Linked DNA regions of Homo sapiens: regions 1 and 2 are each reported to be linked to region 3. The links are microRNA targets in miRTarBase. Many come from high-throughput screens and were not tested one by one. Region 3 holds a microRNA gene; each other region holds the end of a gene's coding sequence. Distances are between the middles of the regions.
What was found. The annotated mature microRNA hsa-miR-6799-5p reads GGGGAGGUGUGCAGGGCUGG and lies in region 3 at 5,117-5,136, shown strand. An mRNA with a match to its seed (bases 2 to 7 or 8) in the 3' UTR can be bound and repressed. Matches are read on the target gene's strand: a 7mer-m8 pairs with bases 2 to 8, a 7mer-A1 pairs with bases 2 to 7 and ends in A, and an 8mer does both.

Region 1 (7,120 bases), not on the chromosome of region 3:
AAAAATAGAAACGTGTTTCTACATATCAGATGCATTCCATCAAAGGCTGCTGAGAAAACCTGGAAGGGGGCAGGCATAAAGGCAGCCATGTCAGTCCAGTCTTTCCTCCCTTGGATCTGCTGACAAGAGCAAGGCTGGTTGGCTGGGCTCTGGGTCTGATCTAAGGTGCCTCTTCTCATGTTTTATCCTCAGGCTGGGATCATTACAGAGGCAAAGCTGAAGGATCTGACACCCCCTATGCCTGTGATGTTCATCAAGGCCATTCCTGCAGATAAGCAGGACTGCCGCAGTGTCTATTCCTGTCCTGTGTACAAGACTAGTCAGCGGGGACCCACCTACGTGTGGACTTTCAACCTGAAGACTAAGGAAAACCCATCCAAGTGGGTTCTGGCTGGAGTAGCCTTGCTTCTCCAGATTTAGCATCCTGCAGAGCCACCGAGAAAATAAAAAAGCTGGGCTTGGAGGCTGCCTAGAGGGACAGGTGGGTGAAGGGTCACCACAGACACTTAGAACGGTAAGAAACCATGAGCACTCACAATTCTGTAGAATTCCTCTAGGGAACTTGGAGAGGTGTGCCTAAGGTGAGGCTGAGCTGAAGGAATGTGGGCCCAGGTTTCTTAATAAAATGATTTACTCTTCAACTGTGTCTGGCCCAGGATTTGAGAGCTGCTGAATCATAAATGATCATGTAGAGACCAAGAGAAACAAACCACAAGGGCCCTGACCTTGTTACACAACACTATCCTAGGTGCTCTTCTTCCAGGCTACCCCACGCAGTCCTTGGACCAGTGGTATTGGCATCACCCATGAACCAGAATCTCCATTTTAACAATCTCTCTGGAAAATCTGTATGCACATTATAGTTTGAGAAACACTATCCTGGAGCAGGGGTCACCAACATTTTTCCATAAAGAGCCAGTTAGTGAATACTTTTAGTGATTTACAGGCCACAATGCCTCTGTTTGAACTTTGCAACTTTGCCGTGGTAGACCAACAGTAACCATAAATGATGAGTAAATGAAGGGGTGTGATTGCATTCTAACAAATTTTATTTACAAAAACAAGCAATGGGCCATATTTTGCTGATCCCTGCTGTAGAGGATAAGGGATGTGTATACTGATATTTATCCTTCATTAATTCATGCATCCACTCAATACATTTTAATCTGACACCTACTATTTGTTGTGGATACAATGTGAACAAGCAAACAGGAAGTATCTCCATCATCCTTTCGATCATTTAAGAGGAAGCCAAGAAGAAATCTTTACTGTAAAGCCTTTTTTTTTTTTTTGAGATGGAGTCTCGCTCTGTCACCCAGGGTGGAGTGCACTGGGGCAATCTCTGCTCACTGCAACCTCTACCTCCTGGGTTCAAGCGATTCTCCTGCCTCAGCCTCCCAACTAGCTGGGATTACAGGCGCCTGCCAACATGCCTGGCTAATTTTTATATTTTTGGTAGAGACAGGGTTCCACCATGTTGGTCAGGCTGATCTTGAACTCCTGACCTCAGGTGATGTGCCTGCCTCAGCCTCCCAAAGTGCTGGGATTACAGGCGTGAGCCACCGCGCCTGGCCATTCTAAAGCTTTTTAATCTAAAAGTTTTCTAGATTTACCTCCGTGGAACAAATTTTCACTGGAAGTCCAATGGGTTTAACAGTTTTGATGAGTTTTAAAAAGCTCTATGAGGCAGCTTGTTTGGTAAGAAAAGTATGGGAGGACCCAGTATTCCTTCTGTGATTATTCCCTCCTAACCTTGCAGAAACTTAATTTTGTGATTACTGTTTTGAACAGTGGTTCTTAAACTTGAACAGGCATCAGAATCCCCTGGAGGGCTTGTTAAAACAAAGATTACTGGGACCCGCCCTTCAATATTTCTGATTCAGTAAGTTTAAACAAATTGCCAATGCTGCTGGTCTGGAGGCCAGTTTGAGAACTCGTGATTTAAAACCTCAAATCCCATCATCCTATAAATCTCTGCTATATAGAATATGGAATCTGATGCTAATTCCTCTATGATTTTCCTGCTTTCTTCCTTGCAGTTCCTGCACCCCCTAAGTGGGGCCTTCTCATCTTCATGATACAAGGGAGTTAATAAATTTTACTGCTGGAAGCCAGGACCTCCAGCTTGGGTGTTGTCCCTCCTCTCCCATCAACTAGTAATGCACTTGCAGTTTCCTGACTATAGGTTAATCTGTTTTCAGGGAGATAACTCTGTCCACATTAGCATCATCCTTCCTGAGCCTCACCCATAGTAGTATAATAACATCAGGCAGGCCGGGCACAGCGGCTCATGCCTGTAATCCCAGCAATTTGGGAGGCTGAGGCAGGCGGATGACAAGGTCAGGAGATCAAGACCATCCTGGCCAACATGGTGAAACCCCGTCTCTACTAATACAAAAATTAGCTGAGTTTGGTGGTGCGTGCCTGTAATCCCAGCTACTCGGGAGGCTGAGGCAGGAGAATTGCTTGAACCAGGGAGTCGGAGGTTGCAGTGAGCCGAAATCACGCCACTGCACCACTGCATTCCAGCCTGGCGACAAAGCAAGACTCTGTCTCACCAAAAAAAAAAAAAAAAAAAAAAAATCAGGCCTAAAGAAGGAGGTGGAAGATGGTGGGAGGTGGAAGATGGTGGGAGGGGGAAGTCTCACTGTCAGGCCTCTGAGCCCAAGCCAAGCCATCGCATCTCCTGTGACTTGCACCTATACGCCCAGATGGCCTGAAGTAACTGAAGAATCACAAAAGAAGTGAAAAGGCCCTGCCCCGCCTTAACTGATGACATTCCACCATTGTGATTTGTTCCTGCCCCAACTTAACTGAATGATTAACCCTGGGAATTTCCTTCTCCTGGCTCAGAAGCTCCCCCACTGAGCACCTTGTGACCCCCGCCCCTGCCCACCAGAGAACAACCCCCTTTGACTGTAATTTTCCATTACCTTCCCAAATCCTATAAAACGGCCCCACCCCTATCTCCCTTTGCTGACTCTCTTTTCGGACTCAGCCCACCTGCACCCAGGTGAAATAAACAACCATGTTGCTCACACAAAGCCTGTTTGGTGGTCTCTTCACACGGACGCACATGAAATTTGGTGCCGTGACTCGGATCGGGGGACCTCCCTTGGGAGATCAATCCTCCGTCCTCCTGCTCTTTGCTCCATGAGAAAGATCCACCTACGACCTCAGGTCCTCAGACTGATCAGCCCAAGAAACATCTCACCAATCTCAAATCCGGTAAGTGGCCTCTTTTTACTCTCTTCTCCAACCTCCCTCACTATCCCTCAACCTCTTTCTCCTTTCAATCTTGGCGCCACACTTCAATCTCTCCCTTCTCTTAATTTCAATTCCTTTCATTTTCTGGTAGAGACAAAGGAGACACGTTTTATCCGTGGACCCAAAACTCCGGCGCCGGTCACGGACTGGGAAGGCAGCCTTCCCTTGGTGTTTAATCATTGCAGGGACACCTCTCTGATTATACACTCACATTTCAAGGGTGTCAGACCACACAGGGACGCCTGCCTTGGTCCTTCACCCTTAGTGGCAAGTCCCGCTTTTCTGGGGAAGGGTCAAGTACCCCAACCCCTTCTCTTGTCTCTACCCCTTCTCTGCTTTTCTGGGGCAGGGGCAAGTACCCCTCAACCCCTTCTCCTTCACCCTTAGCGGCAAGTCCCGCTTTCCTAGGGGGCAAGAACCCCCCAATCCCTTATTTCCACACCCCAACCTCTTATCTCTGCGCCCCAGTCCCTTATTTCCACGCCCCAACCTCTTGTCTCTGCGCCCCAATCCCTTATCTCTGCGCCCCAATCCCTTATTTCCACACCCCAACCTCTTATCTCTGCGCCCCAGTCCCTTATTTCCACGCCCCAACCTCTTATCTCTGCGTCCCAATCCCTTATTTCCACGCCCCAACCTCTTATCTCTGCGCCCCAATCCCTTATCTCTGCGCCCCAATGCCTTATTTCCGCGCCCCGACCCCCCCCTCCCGCTTTTCTGGAAGGTAAGAACCCCCGAACCCCTTCCCTCCGTGTCTCTACGCTCTCTTTTCTCTGGGCTTGCCTCCTTCACTATGGGCTTGCCTCCTTCACTATGGGCAAGCTTCCACCTTCCATTCCTCCTTCTTCTCCCTTAGCCTGTATTCTTAAGAACTTAAAACCTCTTCAACTCTCACCTGACCTAAAATCTAGGCGTCTTATTTTCTTCTGCAATGCCGCTTGACCCCAATACAAACTCCACAGTAGTTCCAAATAGCCGGAAAACGGCACTTTCAATTTTTCCATCCTACAAGATCTAACTAATTCTTGTCGTAAAATGGGCAAATGGTCTGAGATGCCTGACGTCCAGGCATTCTTTTACACATCAGTCCATTCCTAGTCTCTGTGCCCAATGCAACTCGTCCCAAATCTCCCGCCTGTCCCCTCAGTCCCAACCCCAAGCGTCGCTGAGTCTTTCTAATCTTCCTTTTCTACAGACCCATCTGACCTCTCCCCTCCTCGCCTGGCCAAGCTAGGTCCCAATTCTTCCTCAGCCTCCACTCCTCCACCCTATAATCCTTTTATCGCCTCCCCTCCTCACACCTGCTCCGGCTTACAGTTTCATTCCGTGACTAGCCCTCCCCCACCTGCCCAGCAATTTACTCTTAAAAAGGTGGCTGGAGCTAAAGACATAGTCAAGGTTAATGCTCCTTTTTCTTTATCCCAGATCAGATAGCGTTTAGGCTCTTTTTCACCAAATATAAAAACCCAGTTCATGGCTCGTTTGGCAGCAACCCTGAGGCGCTTCACAGCCCCAGACCCTAAAAGGTCAAAAGGCCGTCTTATTCTCAATATACATTCTATTACCCAATCTGCTCCCGACATTAACTCCAAAAATTGGAATCTGGCCCTCAAACCCCACAGCAGGACTTAATTAACCTCACCTTCAAGGTGTACAATAACAGAAAAAAGTTGCAATTCCTTGCCTCCACTGTGAGACAAACCCCAGCCACATCTCCAGCACACAAGAACTTCCAAACGCCTGAACTGCAGCAGCCAGGCGTTCCTCCAGAACCTCCTCCCCCAGGAGCTTACTACAAGTGCCAGAAATCTGGCCACCAGGCCAAGGAATGCCTGCAGCCCAGGATTCCTCCTAAGCCGTGTCCCATCTGTACGGGACCCCACTGGAAATCGGACTGTTCAACTCACCTGGCAGACACTCCCAGAGCCCCTGGAACTCTGACCCAGGGCTCTCTGACTGACTCCTTCTTGGCTTACCGGCTGAAAACTGACGCTGCCTGATCGCCTCGGAAGCCCCGTAGACCATCACGGACGCCGAGCTTTAGGTAACTCTCACAGTGGAAGGTAAGTCCGTCCCCTTCTTAATCAATATGGAGGCTACCCACTCCACATTACCTTCTTTTCAAGGGCCTGTTTCCCTTGCCTCCATAACTGTTGTGGGTATTGACAGCCAGGTTTCTAAACTTCTTAAAACTCCCCAACTCTGGTGCCAACTTAGACAACACTCTTTTATGCACTCTTTTTTAGTTATCTCCACCTGCCCAGTTCCCTTATTAGGCCGAGATATTTTAACCAAATGATCTGCTTCCCTGACTATTCCTGGACTACAGCCACATCTCATTGCTGCCCTTCTTCCCAATCCAAAGCCTCCTTTGCGTCCTCCTCTTGTATCCCCCACCTTAACCCACAAGTATAAGATACCTCTACTCCCTCCTTGGTGACCGATCATGCACCCCTTACCATCTCATTAAAACCTAATCACCCTTACCCCGCTCAATGCCAATATCCCATCCCACAGCATGCTTTGAAAGGATTAAAGCCTGTTATCACTCGCCTGCTACAGCATGGCCTTTTAAAGCCTATAAACTCTCCTTACAATTCCCCCATTTTACCTGTCCTAAAACCAGACAAGCCTTACAAGTTAGTTCAGGATCTATGCCTTATCAACCAAATTGTTTTGCCTATCCACCCTATGATGCCAAACCCATATACTCTCCTATCCTCAATACCTCCCTCCACAATCCATTATTCTGTTCTGGATCTCAAACGTGCTTTCTTTACTACTCCTTTGTACCTGTCATCCCAGCCTCTCTTCGCTTTCACTTGGACTGACCCTGACACTCATCAGGTTCAGCAAATTACCTGGGCTGTACTGCCGCAAGGCTTCACAGACAGCCCCCATTACTTCAGTCAAGCCCAAATTTCATCCTCATCTGTTACCTATCTCGGCATAATTCTCGTAAAAACACACGAGCTCTCCCTGCTGATCGTGTCTGATTAATCTCCCAAACCTCAATCCCTTACAAAACAACAAACTCCTTTCCTTCCTAGGCATGGTTAATGCAGTCAGAATTCTTACACAAGAGCCAGGACCGCACCCTGTAGCCTTTCTGTCCAAACAACTTGACCTTACTGTTTTAGCCTAGCCCTCATGTCTGCGTGCAGCGGCTGCCGCTGCTTTAATACTTTTAGAGGCCTTTCCTACAAGGTCTGAGAAGGCCACCGTAGTCATTTCTTCCCTTCTGTCAGACATAATTCCTCAGTTTAGCCTTCCCACCTCTATACAGTCTGATAACAGACCAGCCTTTATTAGTCAAATCAGCCAAGCATTTTTTCAGGCTCTTAGTATTCAGTGACAGACTAATGGTCTATTAAAAACACACCTCACCAAGCTCAGCCACCAACTTAAAAAGGACTGGACAATACTTTTACCACTTTCCCTTCTCAGAAGTCAGACCTGTCCTCAGAATGCTACAAGGTACAGCCCATTTAAGCTCCTGTATAGACGCTCCTTTTTATTAGGCCCCAGTCTCATTCCAGACACCAGACCAACTTCGACTATGCCCCCAAATAACTTGTCATCCCTACTATCTTCCGTCTAGTCATACTCCTATTCACCATTCTCAACTACTCATACATGCCCTGCTCTTGTTTACACTGCCGGTTTACACTGTTTCTCCAAGCCATCACAGCTGATATCTCCTCGTCCTATCCCCAAACTGCCACTCTTAACTCTTGAATAAATAATCTTTGCTGGCAGGACTATGCTGAACCTCCATAGGCACTCTCTAATTAGATGTCCTAGGTCCTCCCAATTCTTAGTCCTTTTATACCTGTTTTTCTCCTTCTCTTAT
Region 2 (7,120 bases), 40 Mb from region 3:
AGGACAGAAACGCTTTGATTGTGACCAGTGTGGGAAAGTCTTTGTTTCTTTCTCATCTCTTTTTGCTCATTTGAGAACTCACACTGGTGAGAAGCCCTTTAAGTGTTACAAATGTGGGAAACCATTTACCTCTTCTGCCTGTCTTCGTATTCACATGCGAACTCACACAGAAGAGAGACTCTATCAATGTAAGAAATGTGGTAAAGCTTTCACTAAGTGCTCATATCTTACCAAACATTTACGAACACACGCTGGAGAGAAACCCTATGAATGTATGAAATGTGGGAAAGCCTTCACTGAGCGCTCATACCTTACTAAACATTTACGAAGACACAGTGGAGAGAAGCCATATGAATGTAAGAAATGTGGAAAAGCCTTCACAGAACGCTCAGATCTTACTAAACATTTACGAAGACACACTGGAGATAAGCCCTATGAATATAAGGACTGTGGGAAAGCCTTTGTTGTCTCCTCCAGTCTAGTTGATCATTTAAGAACTCACACTGGATATAAACCCTATAAATGTAATGCATGTGAAAAAGCTTACAGTAGGTCTTGTGTACTAACTCAACACTTAAAAACTCATGCAGCAGAGAAGACCTCTGAATGTAACGCATGTGGAAATTCCTTTCGAAATTCCATGTGCTTTCATGATCGCTTAAAAACTCTCACCAAAATAAAACCCTATAAATGTAAGGACTGTGGGAAAGCCTTCACTTGTCATTCAGATCTTACTAATCATGTGCGAATTCACACTGGAGAGAAGCCCTATAAATGTAAGGAATGTGGGAAGGCCTTCCGTACATCCTCAGGACGTATTCAACATTTAAGAACTCATATGGGAGAGAAACCCTTTGAATGTGACCAGTGTGGGAAAGCCTTTGCTTCTTTCTCAGCTCGTATTGCACATTTGAAAACACACTAGAGAGAAGCCCTGTGGATGTGAAGAATGTGGAAAAACCTTTGCTGTTTCCTCAAGCCTAACTGAACATGTAAAAATTCACAGGAGAAAGTAACACTATCAATGTAAGGAATGTGAGAAAGCCTGAACAGTTGAATCTTTCTAGATATGTACAAACTCACACTGTAGAGAAACCCTGTAAATGTAAGGGATGTAGGAAAACACTAGTTCTTCTCTCTCTCTTTTTTTTTTTTTGATGAGTCTCACTCTGTCACCTAGGCTGGAGTGCAGTGGCATGATCTTGGCTCACTGCAACCTCTGCCTCCCAAGTTCAAGCAATTCTCCTGCTTTAGTCTCCTGAGTAGCTGGGATTACAGGCATGCACCACCACACCTGGCTAATTTTTTATATTTTTGGTAGAGACAGAATTTCACCATGTTGGCCAAGCTAGTCTCAAACTCCTGACCTCATGTGATCATGTGCTTCCACCTCCCAAAATGCTGGGATTACAGGTGTGTGCCACTGCACCTGGCATTCTTCTCATCTTACTGAACGTGTAGAAACACCATGGAGAGAAACCATGTTTTTTTGTTTGTTTGTTTTTGAGATGAAGTCCCACTCTGTAGCCCAGGCTGGAGTGCAGTAGCATGATCTCGGCTCACTGCAACCTCCGCCTCCTGGGTTCAAGCGATTCTCCTGCCTCAGCCTCCCGAGTAGCTGGGATTATAGGCACACACCACTGCACCTGGCTGATTTTTTGTATTTTTAGTAGAGACGGGGTTTCAACATTTTGGCCAAGCTGGTCTTGAAGTCCTGACCTCAGGTAATCTGCCCGCCTTGGCCTCCCAAAGTGGTAGAATTACAGGTGTGAGCCATCGCGCCTGGCCAAGAAACCCATTTTATGTAAGGAATGAGGAAAATCCTTTTGGAAGTCCATATGCCTTAATAGTCACATTGTAATTCACACTGGTGAGAAAACAATGTAAGCACTGTGTCAAAGTGCTCATTTGTCCCTGTTCACTTCAAAGATAGGAAAGAACTTACACTCTGATGATGCTCCATAAAGTTAAAGGCATGTGGGAGAACCGTTGGAATCTGCTGACAATACACTGTGTAAGAGTTCATCCTGAAGCTGTACAATGTTAGAAACATAGAGAGCTGGCCAGGCGCAGTGGCTCATGCCTATAATCTCAGCACTTTGGAAGGCTGAGGCAGGTGGATCACGAGGTCAAGAGATCGAGACTATCCAGGCCATCCAGGCCAACATGGTGAAACCCTGTCTCTACTAAAAATACAAAAATTAGCTGGGCATGGTGGTACACCCCTGTAATCCCAGCTACTCAAGAGCCTGAGGCAGGAGAGTCGCTTCAACCAGGGAGGCAGAGGTTACAGTTAGCCAAGATCATGCCACTGCACTCCAGCCTGGCGACTGAGCGAGACTCCATCTCAAAAAAAAAAAAAAAAAAAATCAATAGCTTTCACTGTTTCCTTGGGTTCTTGGAATGGAGATAAACCCTTTTTATGTAAGATGTTTGATGTAAGATATGTTCAGAAGTTTTATTCTTGCCAAATACTTTGGTGTTTACCTGTAATTTTATAGTGGAGAAAAACTTCATGAAGGTAATAAATGTTGGAAAGTAATTTTTTATATTCTTCGTCCTTTAGTGAATATGAGGGGCATTCACACTTATGAGAAACTGGGCATGTATGGAATATCAGGATTGCTTCTCTGAAACCTGTCAAAGCCTGGCTTTCTGGGTGGTTCTATAGAACTATTTTGGAAGTTTCTTACACCCCGCTGCTCATTCCTGGCATGGTATGTCTTTCTCCTATAGCAACACCACTCTAGTTGCTATACATCCTCTGGGTTACAACTGACCTAAAGTGGGCCTTCAGGATTCAGACAATCCTGTTTTAACAGTGTAGATTCTCTTTTTGGTTTGTCATATTTTTAGACATGGTCCACCTGTAGTGGCTCACACTGGCCAAGGTAAAAGTTATAATACAGCTTTAAAATGTAAAAATACTCTTGTTCCTCTTTTCAAACCTGATCTTTTCAGATAAATGGTCAGGGTTGAAGAAGGGTCTGAGTGGAGAAAGGGTGCACTAACAGATAGTAACTTAAGATACCGTGATTTCATGGCCGTGGAGGGACACCCATAACCCTTCACCTGGAGAGGTGGGAACTCTTGTACTATCAGGCAGTGCAGAGAGGTGGTGGGAACCACGAATGTTGTCTTTGATGCCACTGTTTGGCAAAGCAGTCATATATGCCTGACTCAGTTAACTGCTATGATTGGCAGTATGACCTATTTCTGGGGTTTCATTTTGCCCATGTGCTATGAAAACAGAAAAACTCCTGTGAACATGGATGATCATGATATTCTGCTGTGCTTGACACCATCACTAGCACTTCCTGAACATGGCCCTGGAATACACACACACGCACAAGCTGCATAACCAGGTTCCAGTCTGAGTGGTACAAATTTAAATATTTCTGTTATATCATGTACAGCAATTAAGGCTGTTGTTTCTTGGTGATTCTTTCTGTGGTTCTTAATCCAGCCAGTGTAATGGTAATCCAAAGCTTCAGGTAAGTTTACCAATCCTGAATCAGCTGGGTGTAATAGCTTATGCCTGTAATCCCAGCACTTCGGGAGGCCAAGTCAGGCGGATCACTTGGGCTCAGGAGTTCAAGACCAGCCCGGGCAACATGGCAAAACCCTATCTCTACAAAAAATGTAAAGATTAGCCTGGTGTGATGGCACGTGCCTGTAGTCCAACCTACTCAGGAGGCTGAGATAGGTGTCTCACTGACCCCAGGGAGGTCATGGCTGCAGTGAGCTCAGATCGTGCCATTGGACTCCAACCTGGGTGACAGAGGCCTTGTCTCAAAAACAAAACAAAACCAAAAAAACTGAATTGAGGTCCATGCATTTTCATGTTACATGTTTTCTTATGGAGAGGAAAGGGTTTCAGAGTGGTTCTCTTGTGGTATGAGTGTGATTATTTTAACCCATCTTTGTTGCGTTTAACTGTTACCAGTGACACAAAAGACGCAGATTAGTCTTAATTGCCTTGTGTGACTTCTGTCACCTCACAGACTGTCCTTAGATGCCATCCTGATTGTCTCAAATAAAACCTATAGGTTATTCCTGAAACTTTTTCACAGTTGTTGGAGTATGAGCACTTGTGGGTCACAGGTGAGGTCAATACTGTAGGTTGGCCTCATCCTGGTGCTTGGACTAATAGTGATGTATCACTAAGAAATGATACCCTAGTCTCACAGCCTAGAAATTGCCTAGCTTCAGAAGCTGATTTCCTTTTTTATTTTTTTTAGAAGCTGATTTCTGATTGTTTATATAAAATCACTTGATCTTTGTATACTGAATTTTACTAGAAGCCTTGTTCAACATTCTTTAACATCCTAGTTTTATGTATTTTGGGTTTTCCACATTTCATATTATCTGTAACTGACTTAACTTGTAACCTTCAGTCATTTATGTCTTGTCTAGGCAGAAAATACTAGAATAATAACTAGAAGTAGTAAAACAAGCATACTTTTATTTCTAATCCTAATGGCAGATGTTTTCCATCATTACTAATCACTGTATTGGTTGCTGTAGATTTTTAAAAGGTCAAGGTTTTTTTCTACTTTTCATTGCTTAGGGAATCTTTCCCATGAATGGCTTAAGAATTTATTGAATGCTTTTCCCTGATTCCTCTTTGATGATCTTGCCTTACTCAGAAAATTCAGGTACCTAGGACTGACTGTACTTGCCCTTGATAGATACCTAATATTTAAATGTGTAAGTAAATAAAAGTTTTTTTAAAATGTGGAAAGATAACTGATTGACATTCCAATGTTATATTATCTTTGTAATTCCAGAAAAATGCAGTTTGAGTATAATGGATTAACTTTTTTTTTTGCTAGAATATTTTATATACCTATAGTGTAAAGATTTTTTAAAAATATTATTAACATTGGCATGTAATATTTGCCAAGACCAGGTCGGTCATGGAGACCACAATCCAGCAGCACTAGAGGAATAAAGACATAGACAGAAATAGAGTGCAAAGTGGGATCAGGGGGCTAACAGCCTTCAGAGCTGAGAGCCTCGAACAGAGTTTGACCCACCTATTTATTGACAGCCTGTGATAAACATCGTTTCTGTAGTTTGTAGATTAACTGAAAGTATTCTTTAAGGAGAACAAAGGGACAGGCTCTGGCTTGTTATCTGCAGCAGGAGCATGTCATTAAGGCACAGATTGCTTATGCCATTGTTTGTGGTTTAGGAACACCTTGAGCAGTTTTCCGCCCTGGGTGGGCCAGGTGTTCCTTGCCCTCATTCTGGTGAACCAGCAACCTCCAGTGTGTGCATCATAACCATCACGAGCATGTCACAGTGCTGCAGAGATCTTGTTTATGACTTTTCTTATGGCTTGTTTATGGCCAGGCTTGGGGCCTATTCCCAGCATGTCCCCCTTTTTGTTTTACCAGGGCAATAAAAGCAAAGGCGGCTTTATCACAGTGAGCTACTTCTTGCAGGAGTCAGGATCCGCATCTGCAGACTACACAAAGACAAACAACACAGATTAATAGCACAACCATCATAGAAATCACAGAGCCTCCAAGTGTTTTTATGCATTTCATAGGATTTATGGCTGCCAATCCATCTGCAACTCCTTCAAGCACTCCAGTTCCTGGCATTAAGGTCAGGTGTGCCTGGGATGCTTGAAATATTTGTTCTCTTAATTTTGCAACATCCGAAGACAAGTTTGTAGAGTGTCCTTCCAGATACTTTTTTTTATTCTTTCCCATTCATGGTCTAATTCATTATAAGGGTGAGGAGTGATACAAAAGTCAGAAGTATTCCAGTCGCATTTCAGCTGCATTCCATATTCCAAACTAGCTACTTGATCTCCCACCCACATTACAGTTGGTTGGAGATCATTGATTTGATTAACTATCTTTTGGTCTATTTTAGTTTGAGAGTTCCACAGCAGAGTAGAATTCTTTTGCCATTATTTACAAAATCTGCTGTCTGCACTGATGAATGTAGTGCCACTCCAGCTACTGCAGCAGTAGCTGTGACAGCAATCAGTCCCATAATAATCAAGATTAAAGTAGCAATGAAACACTGAGAACTTCTTAGAATTTTCTGAAGAATTTAGTAATAATATGTACAGAGGGAGAGGGTTCCCAAGGATGGGAAAGCTTCGCCGGTAACCAACTCCTTCTTGAGCTCTCACTGCTAGTATAGAATGATTAGTATTAAACAAGGAAGAGTTCACACAAGAGGACAATCTACCTTCCTGGCAAGTTACATGATAATTAGGGGTGTCAAACTTTAGATCGCCCATTACCAACAAAAGGAGGGTGAACACAACTTTGTATCCAAATTGTATTATTTTCAACAAGTTCTAAAATGTAATTAGGATTATATTGTGATGGCATAGTATATTTTCCTTCCCAAATCTTGATCTTATCAAAAGCTATTAATAGTTTCCACAAATCCTTATGTTTAGCTCCTACAGCGGGCCATATCATTTGAGGTTGAGGTGCCACTATACCGTCATGTTTCCAGATAATAGGAACTCTTGCGGTACTTCTTATCATTTTTACCATCTGATCGTTTTATTCAGACCAGCTGAACATAGTGTGGCCATCACATGCAGACAGAGGTGCAATTCATGCTAAACATCCCCTTAGGGGACCAATCAATAATGATTCCATAGGAATCATGCAGCACCTCTGCCTGTCCTGCAATGCAATCTTCCCAAATGAGTACATTCATTTTTTCTGACCGGGTCCAATCCTGTTTACAAATAGGTTTTTGAGGGCGGTATGCCTCAATTAGAGGAGCAGATTCATTATGGTAAATACTGACACCAGAAAGCATGTGTAACTGCCATAGAGTGATTACGTCCAGGCATTATTGCCAGCCAAGATTGATACTGAGGGGGTGGGCAACTAGTGGCCTTTCCCAAACAGATGGGCGGATGCTTAAATCCTAAAGAAATACTCATAACAGTTCCTTCCCTGTGTGGGTGAGATGGGCCTCTATCATCTGTAGGACCAGGCATCCAAGAGCTATTATTAGTGTATACCTCCACTGGGGGGTCCAGCCAAGTTACAGGCCATAGAAGTGGTGGAAAAGGTAAATATGCCCAATGAGTATAATTGCTCTTTTTGTCAGTCCTTGCTGAAGGAATACT
Region 3 (7,121 bases):
GACAGAGGTTACAAGCCACCCTGAAGAGGGAAGAACCGGGCACTTTGAGGACTGAGAGGGAGGCCACCGTGGCCAACATGTGTGGGTGCAGATGACATTGTCCCTGGAGTGGATGCCGAGGGGTGGTGCTCTGCCAGGGTCAAGGGGCCAGGGTGGGGCTGTCTGGCTCTAGGCTGCCCCCTCCACACTGGAAACTTGGCCTCAGCAGTGACTGGGGCACGAAGGAACTTTATTTTGTAGGTAGACTTTTATTTAACTTTTTATTTTTTGGAGACAGGGTCTTGCCCTGTTGCCCAGGCTGGAGTGCAGTGGCACAGTCTTGGCTCACTGCAACCTCCGACTCCTGGGCTGAAGCGATCTTCCCACCTCAGCCCCCTGAGTAGCTGTGATTATAGGCGTGCACCACCATGCCTGGCTAATTTTTGTATTTCTTTTTTTTTTTGTAGAGATGGGGTTTTGCTATGTTGCCCAGGCTCCAGGCTGGTCTTGAACTCCAGAGCTCAAGCAATCCTCCTGCCTCAGCCTCCCAAAGTGTTGGGATTACAGGTGTGAGCCACCACTCCCATCTAGGCTTTTTTTGTTTGTTTTTTTTGTTTTTTGTTTTTTTTTTTTTGAGGCAGTCTCTCTCTGTCACCCAGGCTGGAGTGCAGTGGTGCAATCTTGGCTCACTGCAACCTCTGCCTCCCAAGTTCAAGCAATTCTCTTGTCTCAGCCTCCTGAGTAGCTGGGATTACAGGTGTGTGCCACCACACCTGGCTATTTTTTTTTTTTTTTTAGTAGAGACGAGGTTTGCCATGTTGGCCAGACTGGTCTCAAACTCTTGACCTCTATTGATCCATCTGCCTCAGCCTCCCAAAGTGCTAGGATTACAGGCGTGAGCCTCTGCGCCCGGTCATTTTAACCATTTGAAGGTGTTCAGTTCAGTGGTTTCTAGTATATTGATGATGCTGTGCAACAACCACTACCACCTAATTGCAGAACACTCATTGCTCCAAAAAAAGACTCTGTACCCATTAGCAGTCCCTCCCCATTCCCTCTTCCCCCCAGCCCCTGGCTGCCACCAATCTGCTTTCTGTCACAGATTTGCCTAATGTGGACATTTCATAGAAATGGAACCGCACAGTAGGTGGCCTTCTGTGTCTGGCTTCTTCCACTCAACAAGATGTTTTTCAGGTTCATCCACATTGTGGTGCATATCCGTGATTTGCTCGAGATAGAGTCTCACTCTGCTGCCCAGGCTGGAGTGCAGTGGCATGATCATAGCTAACTGCAGCCCTGACCTCCCAGGCTCAGGTGATCCTCCCACGTCAGCCACTCCAGCAGCCGGGACTACAGGCACAAGCCACCAGGCCTGGCTAATATTTGAATTTTTTATAGAGACAGGGTCTCACTATATTACCCAGGCTAGTCTTGAACTCCTGAGCTCAAGTGATCCTCCGTGGCCTCAGCTTCCCAAAGTGCTGAGATTACAGGCGTGAGCCACCGCGCCTGACTTGTGGTTTTATTTTTTATACTTGAATATGCAGCTTGATATTGTGTAGTTTAACATTTTCCTAAGTAGCGCCATAGCCCTTATTCCACTTAACCAAGTTGATAAATAGCTCTTATTCCTTTGTGTGGTATCCTTATCTGTAAATGGAGATGATAGAATCCGCGTCCTTAGAGGGCTGTGGTGGGGAGCGAGCGAGCTGTGCGGGAACACTTAGAGCAGAGTTTGGCCCAGAGTCAGGACTCGGGAGATGCGCTGTGGCTCAGGAGATGTGTGCCGTGGCAGCGATGGGAAAGTGGCCCAGAGTCAGGGCTCGGGAGATGCGCTGTGGCTCAGGAGATGTGCGCCGTGGCAGCGATGGGAAAGTGGCCCAGAGTCAGGGCTCGGGAGATGCACTGTGGCTCGGGAGATGAGCGCCATGACAGAGATGGGAAGGTGGCCCAGAGTCAGGGCTCGGGAGATGCGCGCCGTGACGGAGATGGGAAAGTGGCCTGGAGTCAGGGCTCGGGAGATGTGCGCTGTGACGGAGGTGGGAAAGTGCCGTCACAAATGGAGCATCGTCTGTGGCCAGGCTTCTTGCTGGTTTCTGGTTCTAACTTGATGACCACTGGGCAGTGAACGTTTCTGTAGGGTGAGCGTCTGGGGGCAGCACTGCTGGTCTTGGTCTGCTGCACACACAGCAGTGGCCTTTCTAGACAGAGGAAGCCCAGAGCCTCTCCAGAGGGCCTGTCCCTGTGTCCGCCTCCAGCTGCAGCACACGAGGGTTCCCAGCACTTTAGGAGGCCGTAGCAACAGGCGTCAGTCGGGCGAGTATCTGCCTGGATGACGGCAGGAGCCACCTGCTGGGTGGCTGCACATCCAGTGAGACATGCTGCCACAGGCCTTTGACTCGTGCAGGTCTCCCCTCTGAGGACTTCTCCCCTGTGTCTTTTGCTGTCTGTTGGGTGCTTTCTGGGAAACCCTTTACTGATAGGCCATGGCTGGGCCAGTCTTGACAGCTCCCAGCACCTCCTCTTACTCAAGGCTATGGCCATGCACCACACAATCTCATTTCTGTTTTTTTTTGAGACGGAGTCTCACTCTGTCTCCCAGGTTGAAGTGCAATGGTGAGATCTCAGCTCACTGCAACCTCTGCCTCCCAGGTTCAAGCGATTCTCCTGCCCCAGCCTCCCGAGTAGCTAGGATTTCAGGCACGTGCCACCATGCCCAGCTAATTTTTGTATTTTTAGTAGAGATGGGGTTTCACCATGTTGGCCAGGCTGGTCTCAAACTCCTGACCTCAGGTGATCCACCTGCCTCAGCATCCCAAAGTGCTGGGATTATAGGTGTGAGCCACTGCGCCTGGCCTTTTTTTTTTTTTTTTTTTGTAGAGACAGGGTTTTACCACGTTGGCCTGGCCAGGCCGGTCTCAAACACCTGGCCTCAAGTGATCCGCCTGCCTCAGCCTCCCAAAGTGTTGGGATTACAGGTGTAAGCCACCATGCCTGGCCCACCATCTTATTTCTTTCTCCCCAAAGCCGACAAGGCTCCTCATTTTCCTGAAGGGGAAACAGCCCATCAGAGAGGGTCAGTGGCTTACCCCCATCTGTGCCCCACAGTCACAACCTCATGCAGGCGTGTCTGACCCCAGAAGGTGCTCCCCTGGGATCCTCTTCTAGAACAACATCATGCTCCATGCTCTTTGCTGTGCTAGGAGCTGGGTTATGGTTGGGGCCTGGAGTCAGCCCTCTGAGATGGGCTGCCCGCTGGCTGCCAGGTTCTGTGCCAGGCAAGTGCTGACCCTGGTTTCCTGTGACTGCTGTGATGAATTACCACCAGCACAGCGGTGTCAAACACCGGTTCTGGATGTCGGAAGTCCAACATCCATCTCACGGGGCTAAAATCAAGGCGTGGGCAGGGCTCGTCCCTTCCGGGGGCCCTAGAGGAGAGGCCGCGTCCTTGCCTTCTCCAGCTCCTAGAGGCCACCTGCTTTCCTTGGCTCGTGGCCCCTTCCCCCATCCCCAAAGGCAGCAGTGTGGCATCTTCTCTCCTGCCTGACCTCTGTTCCATCCTCACATCATCTCTGACTCTGAACTGTATCTTTCCCTTATAAGGACCCTGTGATGACATTGGGTCCACCTGGATCACCCAGGATCCTCTCTCCATCTCATGATCCTTAACTTTATCATATCTGCAAAGTACCCCCACCCTTTTTTTTGTTTGGAGACAGGGTCTTGCTCTGCCACCCAGGCTGCAGCCTTCACCTCCCAGGCTAAAGCGATCCTCCCACCTCAGCCTGCCAAGTAGGTGGGTCTACAGGCATGCGCCACCACGCTTGGCTAATTCTCATATTTCTAGTAGAGATGGGGGTCTCACCATGTTGCCCAGGCTGGTCTCCAACTCTTGGGCTCAAGTGATTCTCCCACCTCAGCCTCCTAAAGTGCTGGGATTACAGGCGTGAGCCACCCTAACCCCCAGAACCTGTGAATATATTCCCTTGGATTCAAAAGAGCCTTGCAAAGTCTGTTCCCTCACAACAGGCAGAGGGACCCTTTAAAAACCTAAGCCAGATCAAAAATACACCCATTTTCTCAGTTTGTTGTGGAGAGAAGATAAACGTGTGAATCCACCCAGAGACCTGTGGGAGTGCTGGACAGGCCGAAGGGGTCCGGGGGCAGCTGTTCCTGCTGTCGTGTTAACATCACGCTGATTCTCTGCTCACCACCCACAGCGGCTTTCATCTCCCAATCGGTAAAAAGCCAAGTCCTCACTTCAGCCAACAAGGCCCTGCAGGGTCTGGCTCTCTGTTCCCTCCCTGTCCTATCTGCAGCCCTCCTGCCCCATGGCTCAGGCCGCAGCCTGCAGGCCTCCTTGCTGCTCCTCCTACACACGGGCTCCGCCTTCCTGATGGCCTTGGCACAGGCTGTTCCCTCTGCCTGGGATGTTCTGTTGCAGAGGATTTTCAGTCTTTCCTCCTTAAGTTACTCTGTTTTGTTTATTTTTAAATTTTTTTATTTATTTAGAGACAGCTCTAACTCTGTTGCCCAAGCTAGAGGGAGTGCAGTGGCACAGTCATGGTGCACTGCCGCCTCGACCTCCCAGTCTCGAGCAATCCTCCCACCTCACCCTCCCGAGTAGCTGGGATTACAAGCCTGCGCCACCACACCCAGCTAATTTTTGTATTTTTGAAGAGACTGGGTCTCACTGTCGCCCAGGCTGGTCTTGAATTCATGGCCTCAAGTGATCCTCCCACCTCGACCTCCCAAAGTGCTGGGATTATAGGCGTGAGCCACCATGCCCAGCCCTGACAGTATTTGATGTATGTGTTTTCGTGGTGCTGTCTGAAATGTAAGCCCTGTGAGGACAAGTGTTTGGACCACTTTATTCACCACTCTATCCATGGAGTGAACAGCAGTGCCTGGTACCCCATGGGCACCCAGTAGGTGCTTGGTGAATGAATGAAGGTGCAGAGCCAGGCTTGACATGTTCCTGAGCCCTGTGAGGTTACTGAGATGCAATCATTTTGCAGATGAAGACACTGAGTCCTGGTGGGCCGTGAGGTCAGCGCCAGACTGGATCCTGCGGCCGCCTGGCTGTCTGTCCCTCTCGCTGGCCTCGCACACCCTTCCTGGGAGGAACAGGAGAGGAGGGGAGGTGTGCAGGGCTGGGGTCACTGACTCTGCTTCCCCTGCCCTGCATGGTGTCCCCACAGGGACAGCATGGACAGTGTCAAGCAGAGTGCGGCCCTGTGCCTCCTTCGACTGTACAAGGCCTCGCCTGACCTGGTGCCCATGGGCGAGTGGACGGCGCGTGTGGTACACCTGCTCAATGACCAGCACATGGTGAGCCCCCAGCCCTCACACCCCCGGATACCCAGGGCTCCCACCTCAGCCCTGACCCCCCTGGATGCCCGGGGCTCCCACCTCAGCCCTCACACCCCCGGATACCCAGGGCTCCCACCTCAGCCCACGCACCCCCTGGATGCCCGGGGCTCCCACCTCAGCCCTCACGCCCCCGGATACCCAGGGCTCCCACCTCAGCCCTCACGCCCCCTGGATGCCCAGGGCTCCCACCTCAGCCCTCACGCCCCCGGATACCCAGGGCTCCCACCTCAGCCCTCACGCCCCCGGATACCCAGGGCTCCCACCTCAGCCCTCACGCCCCCTGGATGCCTGGGGCTCCCACCTCAGCCCTGATCCCCCTGGATTCCTGGAGCTTCCCCCTCGGCGCTGACGTTCACCAGACACCAGAAACCATGATCCAGTGTCCCCGGTACTCATTACCTGCCCAAGTGTCCAGAAACCCTCCCATCCCCATCTCTGACACTCCCCTGGCTGGCCAGGGATCCTGTCCAGTGACCCCCACACCCCTCACCAACCACCCAGTCCCTTAGAAAATCCCACTCTGTTTCTAATACCTGGAGATTCCCCCAACAGCGCCCATCACCTGCGCACCAGCGCAGAAACCTTGACTGTCCCACCCCCACAGTCCCAACCCTCTAGAGTCTCGCCCCTTCACTGCTCCTTACCCAGCTGCCTGGGGTCCTGCCAGGGACACCCCACACACCCAGGTCAGTGCTGGCCATGGCGCCCGAGGCCCCGTGGCCTCCTCACCCCACCCCTAAAGCACGCACAGTGACACATGTGCACACCCCTAAACCCCATCTTCCCGACTGCACACACATCCCGACCCTGTCCCGCTCCTGAGCCTCTGCTCTCAGGTACCACCTCCCCCAGGGGCCTGACTTGTCTCTCCTCTGCCCCTGCAGGGTGTGGTCACGGCCGCCGTCAGCCTCATCACCTGTCTCTGCAAGAAGAACCCAGATGACTTCAAGACGTGCGTCTCTCTGGCTGTGTCGCGCCTGAGCCGGGTGGGTGTGGCCTAGATATTGGCTGCTGGAGGTGGCCCTGGCATCCCTATGCCCTCTGACACCCCTCAGGCCCCCACTCTCCCTGAGAGGCAGCCCAGCCCAAGGTTTACAAACTCAGGCTCTGAGCTGGATTCATCCTGGCTCGGCCTCTTCCTGGCTGGGTGGCCCTGGACAAGTGGCTTCACCTCCCTGGCCTCAGCTGCCCCCTGTGTTCAGTGGGGATAATACCGGTGCCCACCTGGAGGCACAGAGCGCTGTGGATAGAGTGCTCAGAACAGGGCCTCGCGGGCCGAGCACCCCGGGAGCCAGCCGCCCTCATGACCTCCTCCCTCTCCCACTTCTCTCTCTGTCTCCCACTTTCCCTCTTCTGGCTTTGCCTCCCGCCTCTCTCTTTCCTGTGCAGCCTCTCACTCCTGCCTGGCGTCCCTCTCCCACCTTTGCTCCTGTCCTGCCCAGGAACATCCCCTGAGGCCTTGTGCATGCCAGGCTCCATGTCGGGTGACACCAGGGACACAGATGAGTCAGAACCAAGCTCTGCTCTTAAGGAGCTCCCTGTCCTTCTGGCAGGGAGGTGACTCAGTCACAGATTGTCAGAAAAGGGGTGACTCGTGCTATAATGGAGGTAGGATAGGTCACCCATAGGAGGCACTTAACACAGCCTGTGAGTCCACGAAGGCTTCCTGGGGGCGGCGATCCCAGAATTGAGACTTAGAATACACATGCGCATCTCCTGGGCAGTCAGGAAGAGGCCTGGATTCGCAGGCAAAGAGAAGAACACACCAG

Region 1: miRTarBase lists DNAH9 as a target of hsa-miR-6799-5p. The part of its 3' UTR that is shown has no 7-base or 8-base seed match.
Region 2: the mRNA of ZNF560 is a reported target of hsa-miR-6799-5p. The part of its 3' UTR that is shown has no 7-base or 8-base seed match.

Annotation. Positions count from the first base shown.
Region 1 is chr17:11,969,108-11,976,227 of GRCh38, forward strand. It overlaps DNAH9 (dynein axonemal heavy chain 9), which reads left to right. Exons shown (of 69, transcript NM_001372.4): 69 at 193-641. The coding sequence ends at 420. Among named protein-coding and RNA genes, the nearest start is that of ZNF18, 25 kb to the right of the region's middle.
Region 2 is chr19:9,460,379-9,467,498 of GRCh38, reverse strand. It overlaps ZNF560 (zinc finger protein 560), which reads left to right. Exons shown (of 10, transcript NM_152476.3): 10 at 1-1,144. The coding sequence ends at 925. It overlaps LOC105372269 (a long non-coding RNA gene), which reads right to left. Exons shown (of 3, transcript XR_007067133.1): 3 at 4,970-5,473. Among named protein-coding and RNA genes, the nearest start is that of ZNF266, 28 kb to the right of the region's middle.
Region 3 is chr19:49,786,755-49,793,875 of GRCh38, forward strand. It overlaps MIR6799 (microRNA 6799), which reads left to right and starts at 5,112; the gene lies at 5,112-5,180. AP2A1 (adaptor related protein complex 2 subunit alpha 1) reads left to right here. Exons shown (of 23, transcript NM_130787.3): 5 at 5,181-5,310; 6 at 6,237-6,338.